2 separate regions of the Homo sapiens genome follow, and region 1 is linked to region 2. Evidence: fine-mapped expression QTL. A gene starts in region 2. The other region holds a variant in brackets. All regions are shown on one strand. Distances are from middle to middle.

Region 1 (2,900 bases), 25 kb before region 2:
CAGTTTGAGACCAGCCTGGCCAATATGGTGAAACCCGTCTCTACTAAAAATACAAAAATTAGCCGGGCGTGGTCGCGTGCACCTGTAATCCCAGCTACTCGGGAGGCTGAGGCAGAAGAATCGCTTGAACCCGGGAGGCGGAGGCTGCGGTGAGCCGAGATCACACCACTGTACTCGACAGAGCCTGGGCGACAGAGCGAGACTCCATCTCAAAAACAAACAAAACAAACAAACGAACAAACAGAAAGGCACCTGAAACCATTTATTGCCTTTCTTTAAAAGAGAAATAAGGAGAAATGAGAACTGTATACTGTTATGGGCTGACTTGTGCCACCCAAAATTCATATGTTGAGGTCTTAACTCCCCCATGACCTCAGAATGTTACTGCATTTGGAGATGGGGCCTTTAAAGAAGTGACTAAGTTAAAATACAGTTGTTAGGGTGGGCCCTAATCCAGTTGGACCAATGTCCTTATAAGAAGTGATTAGGGTCTGGGCGCGGTGGCTCATGCCTGCAATCCCAGCACTTTGGGAGGCTAAGGCAGGAGGATCATTTGAGTCCTAGAGTTCCAGACCAGCCTGGGCAACATGGTGAAACCCTGTCTCTACAAAAATTTAAAAAAAAAAAACTAGCTGGGTATGGTGGCCTGTGACTGTAGCCCCAGCTACTCAGGAGGCTAAGGCTGGAGGCTCTCTTGAGCCTGGAAGGTCGAGGCTGCAGTGAGTGGTGACTGTGCCACTGCACTCCAGCCTGGGCGACGGAGTGAGACTCTGTCTCAAAAAAACAGAAGTGATTAGGACGCAGGCACACACAGACAGGGATGAGCATATAAGGGCCCAGGGAGAAGATGGAGTCTACCAGCCAAGGAGAGAGACTCAAGAGGAACCAACCTTGCCGTCACCTTGATCTCACACTTCTAGCCTCCAGAAGTGGGAGATGATACGTTTCTGTGGTTTAAGCGCCCCAGGGTGTGGTACAATACTTTGTTGTGGCAGCCTTTGCCCCCATATCCCTCAATTGCCAAGTCCCCTAGATCAGGGGTCCCCAACCCCAGCCTGAGGATCAGTACCAGTCTGTGGTCTGCTGGGAATCAGGCTGCACAGTAGGAGGTAAGCTAGAGATCATTACTGCCTTAGCTCCGCCTCCTGTCAGATCAGCAGATTCTCATGAGAGCGCGAACCGTATTGTGAACTGCACATGTGAGAGATCTAGATTGTGCGCTCCTTATGAGAATCCGGTGCTTGATGATCTAAGGTGGAACAGTTTCATCCTGAAACCATCCCCTGCTCC[G/T]TCCCGTGGAAAAAGTGTCTTTCACGAAACCAATCCCTGGTGCCAAAAAGACTGGGGAGCTCTGCCCTAGATATTGCCTTGTAAAGAATTCTCAAATCTTCCTTTCCACATCTTCTATGGACCAAAGTTCTTATGGGGAGAGTCAGACAACCAGAGAAGATCAAGAGAGGGAGAGAGTGAAAAGGAGAAGCACCCTGGCAGTCTGCTGCCTGGGGCCATGGAGGGAGCTGGCCTCATGCTCCTGGCTCCCTCTGCCAGCATTTCTGTCTCCCTCCCAGACTGAGGAAGTAACCCTGAGGACAGTGGTCACCTGTCTATAAATGGCTGTGGAGCTCAAATTGGGGGATTGCTATGGTATTAGGAGAGCCTGAACAGCCCTTGGGGGCCTGGGAAGTGACCGGTAGGGACAGGCCCTCTCCCCTTCTGGATGCAGGGGTCTTCCAAGGGTGCTACAGAGATGCAGCTCTTAGGAGACCTAGATTTGAGCAAAGGTCTCAATCCAGGCAGGCACTTTAAACAGCAGCAACAGCAGGTGGTGGCTCTCCCTGCAGGACTTAGCACCATTCTGCACAAAGTACAAGAAGGTATTAGTTGTCCACAGACAAGAGAGCACCATTATCTGCCCAGATTCTCAGGGATCAGAAATCAAGACAAATCACGGCCCTTCCTGGAGTGAGATCACCAGTGCTCAGCCTGTCCTTGCCCCATCACCCCACTGCCAGACCCTCCCCAGCTGGCAGAACCAGCCAGCCAGGCTGGCGGGAAGCCATCACACCCACTCACAAGCCAGAGTCAGCTCTCGGCACCCACCTGAGCTCCTGGCTCCCAGCGGGGCTAGGCATACTTGGCAGGCACTCGATCCAAATTGCCCGAGACGCTTTGGTCCTGCCTCCATCCGCACTGGCAAAGAAGGTGGCTGTGAGAGGCTCTGGAGATGTCAGAGCCTCCTCCCTGGGCATGCTGAATGTGGCTAACTTATTGGAGTGCAAGGAGCAAGTCTGACAATGGCATGCTACTGCCATGGTGGCTGGCCCTCTCAAACCCCAAGGATGGTACTTTTTCTTGGGGTGTTCAAGTTGCCACCAGGCTCAGTGGTGCAAGGGTTAAGGTGACACAGATACGTACTCATCAGACCAGAGCCAGGTGCTCTCTCCCGGGGGGCTGGACTGTTTTGCTCCTTTCAGCCCTGGGACATCCAGCCAGATGGGCTCTTACTGATTTCTTTGTCCCGTCTTGTCACTGGGCACATGGGGACACTGATCTCGAAGCCCAGCATGGAGGTGCCCTGACTGAGGTTCCTCAGTGACTGAGTGGCAGGTATGGCAGCCACCAGCCCCAGGCAGAGATGAGCGCAATGGATTACCTGTTTGAGCCAGGAGTGGATCTTGCCAGAGCAGGTGGGTCCTGGCTCTTCTCAGAAGGCCCGTCCTCTTCCACCACCTCCACCCTTTGAGCAAGAAGAGAAACAGCGCTCGTGGTCTTCTTGGCTGCCCTAGAGCTTGGAGGCCTCAAAGAACATGCTTCCAGTGGCGTCTAACTGACCCAACCCTTCAGGATCACGGCCAAGAGGTGGCCCAGGCTGGGGGTTCAGTGACTCCAGCTCAGGATAA
Region 2 (2,900 bases):
GGAGGCACCAAGGCCTGCCAGAAGGCTGGCCCCTCATCTGTGCATCTGTGTCTTGGCCACTTGCTGGCCTCTGAGCTGCCCCTTGTTTTTCAGATGAGGAGCGGAGGCCCTGGGAAGGCAGGACCTCTGCAGCTCTGTTCAGGCCTATCAACCTGTGCACCCCTGCCTCCCGCCCCCAGCCAGGTACGACAGCCAGAAGTCTGAAGGGCCATGAGACCAAGGCAGGACTTAGTCCAGGTACTGAAGCCTCAAGCACTGCTGGATGGGGTGTGAGAGGCCCTCTCTCGGGGCTCACAGCTTTGGGGCCTCCCATGATGCCAAGGCTTCGTGCCGACGGCTCAGCAAGAACACAACTCCTACCATGCCTCAGATGTCCCAAAGCCGGGACACACCCACCACCTACTTTATCTGAGTCCCCAGCAGCCCTGGGTGGGAGGCAGCTTGACGTGTCACCCCCTTAAACCGACAGAGTACCCAGGTGTCCCCAGCTCAGAAGTGGCAGATCAGGCAGGAGCACCTGAGCTTTCGGCCTTTTTGTAAGGCAAGGTATCCCTCTGCCTTTCCAAAGAGGACAGACTCTTGGCTCCCTCTGCCCCCATCAAAACAATCCAGCCACAGAGCTGGTGCAGTGCCGATCCTGTCGATAACACCCAGTGACACCTGATTCGGCGCCTTCTGTCTGAGTGTGAGCAGCCACCATCCTCATGGCCCTCCCCAAGATTGCCCTGTACCCAGCACATGCACCTCACAGGCCCCAGGGCGATTGAGGGGATCCTCTGGGTGAGCCAGCCTCTGGGTCTCAGTTTCCTCATCTATAAAATGGGCACAGGGGGACGGAGGGATATGAGATTCCCTGATTCTTAAAGGCCTGCAGTCAACTCTCAGAGCATCCTGGCCCCTCGCCGTTTACTAACAATTAAACCGTGTCTTTCCTAAAGGGCAAGACAGAGGGATCAGGCTGGCAAGGGGGACACTTGCCTCTGTAGGGGACGCTGGCCTCCTCTGCCTGTCAGTCTTTTCACTCACAGCGAAAACCAGAAATCCACTGACTCCCGGGGGGAACCCGAAGAGAGATGCTTGGAGCTGGTAAGGGTTATGGATGGGGAAACTGAGGCCCTGACTTGTCCCCAGCTGGGCACGGACTGGGTGCCCCCCACTGCCTCCAAGCAGGGCCGCATCCAATGGCGACTCGACAGCCCTACCTGGCACCGGTGCCCGGCTCGTGGGGCGGGTGGAGGGTCGGGCAGTCGCAGGGCGCGGGCTCCCTCGGGTGGACGGCGCCCGGCCGGGCCGGGCCGGGCCGGGGAGGCAGGCGCGGGGCGCGGGGCGCGGTGCACAGCGGGGAGCGCGCAGGGAGGCGAGGAGGCGCGGACTGGGCTCCGCCCGCAGGAGAACAAACAGGTTTTCTCCGGCCGCCCGGAGCCTCGCCCCTCGCCCCTCCCCTCGGCCGGCCCCTTCCTCTGCCCCTCCTGGGGTAGGTAGAGGCGCCTGGCACATTCCGCACATTCTCCCGCCAGCGTCCTCCGCCCGCCCGCCCCTTCTCGGCCCCGCCCCGCGGGGCTGCTGGAGAAATCAAGTCTGGGGCTCCCCTTGTCGAGCACGGGGCGAGCTCCAGAAGGCTCTGCCGTGATGGAAAACTTCCAGGCAAATTCCTCCGGGCCCGTGGCCCCCAGGCCGGGAAGCCTCCGCCACGTGAAGGGCCCCCGCTCCTAGTTGCGCGATCTGGCCCCGGCACAGGGCCAACGACTTCCACAGATGCTGTCGGGTTAATTCAGTCGAGAACTACCGTTCCTAGATCCATTTTACAGATGGAGATCCCAGACAGGGGCGGGGAGGGGGGCGGGGGGCTGGCGGCTGAGATCATCCAGGAAGTCCTGCAGGCAGGAAAGGAGGAGAAGAGTGAGGGAGCCGCTCATCGTGGAAGGCCATCCTGGGACGGACCCGGGGCTCACAAGGCACAGCAAACGGGGCTATCTCCCAGGCTGGGCGACGAGATACAGCCAGACTCCCAGAGCCAATGCGGTTTGATGTACCTGTGTCACGCGTTGGTGCTCACCGAGTGCTTTATTGTGTGCAAGGCCCTGGGCTGGGGCTAAGGATGGAGAGAGCATGGAGGAAAGACCCCTCACCCCACGGCCTCCCAAACAGGGAGACAATTAAGCCAGCCCAAGAAATGGCATGGACTTGGCCAGGAGTTGGCCTACCAGGGTGGTAGGCTCAAAAGAATGGACCAGCTGCTTCTCCTTCATCAAGGCCTGCCAATGTGGTGTTTCCATGGCCCTCCAGTCCACCCACTTCTCCCTGTGCCTGCTGCCACCACCCTAGTCCAGACCTGGCCCCGAAGACCAGCCTCCTTGCTGGTGTCCCCCTGCCTCTGGTCTTGCCTTCCTTTCCCTCAGTCTCTACACGGAGGTCAGGTTAAAAGTTCACGTGTGTCAATATGATCAGGTGCTCTCCTGCTTGCAACTCCTCCATGGCTTCCCATTGCTCTCAGGGTAAAAGCCAGACTCCTTGAGACGACCTATCCCTGCAGGTCCAGCCACTCTTCCCTTTGTTCAATACATTACAGCCACACTGGCCTTTTTCCATTGCCTTCTGAATACATCACATGGCGCTCACCTTGGGGTGTTTGCTCCTGCTCCTCGGACTCCCTAAAATGCTCTTCATCCCCGTCGGGCTAGTGAGCTCTTAGTCATTCTTCAAGCCTCCACCCAGTGTCCGGAAAGCCTCCCCTGCCTGCCACCCAGTCGAGCTGATCACTTCCTTCTGTGCACCCCTTAGTTCCCTCAGATGACATCAATCCAGCATAGTGGCTGTCACCCTCTATTGTTCTAGATCCTGAGCTCTGGGAGGGCAGGGCCCCTTCTGATTCATCACTGGGTCACGGAGACCAGCACAGG

What was found.
Region 1: its variant is fine-mapped to the expression of ZNF185 in whole blood (TOPMed, PIP above 0.99).

Annotation. Positions count from the first base shown.
Region 1 is chrX:152,922,010-152,924,909 of GRCh38, reverse strand. It overlaps ZNF185 (zinc finger protein 185 with LIM domain), which reads right to left. Exons shown (of 25, transcript NM_001395254.1): 11 at 2,654-2,737; 12 at 2,101-2,190. Among named protein-coding and RNA genes, the nearest start is that of ZNF185, 25 kb to the right of the region's middle. The variant G/T (reference allele first, on the strand shown) is at 1,291.
Region 2 is chrX:152,896,541-152,899,440 of GRCh38, reverse strand. ZNF185 (zinc finger protein 185 with LIM domain) reads right to left here and starts at 1,374. Exons shown (of 25, transcript NM_001395254.1): 1 at 1,203-1,374. RefSeq lists an enhancer at 1,622-2,122.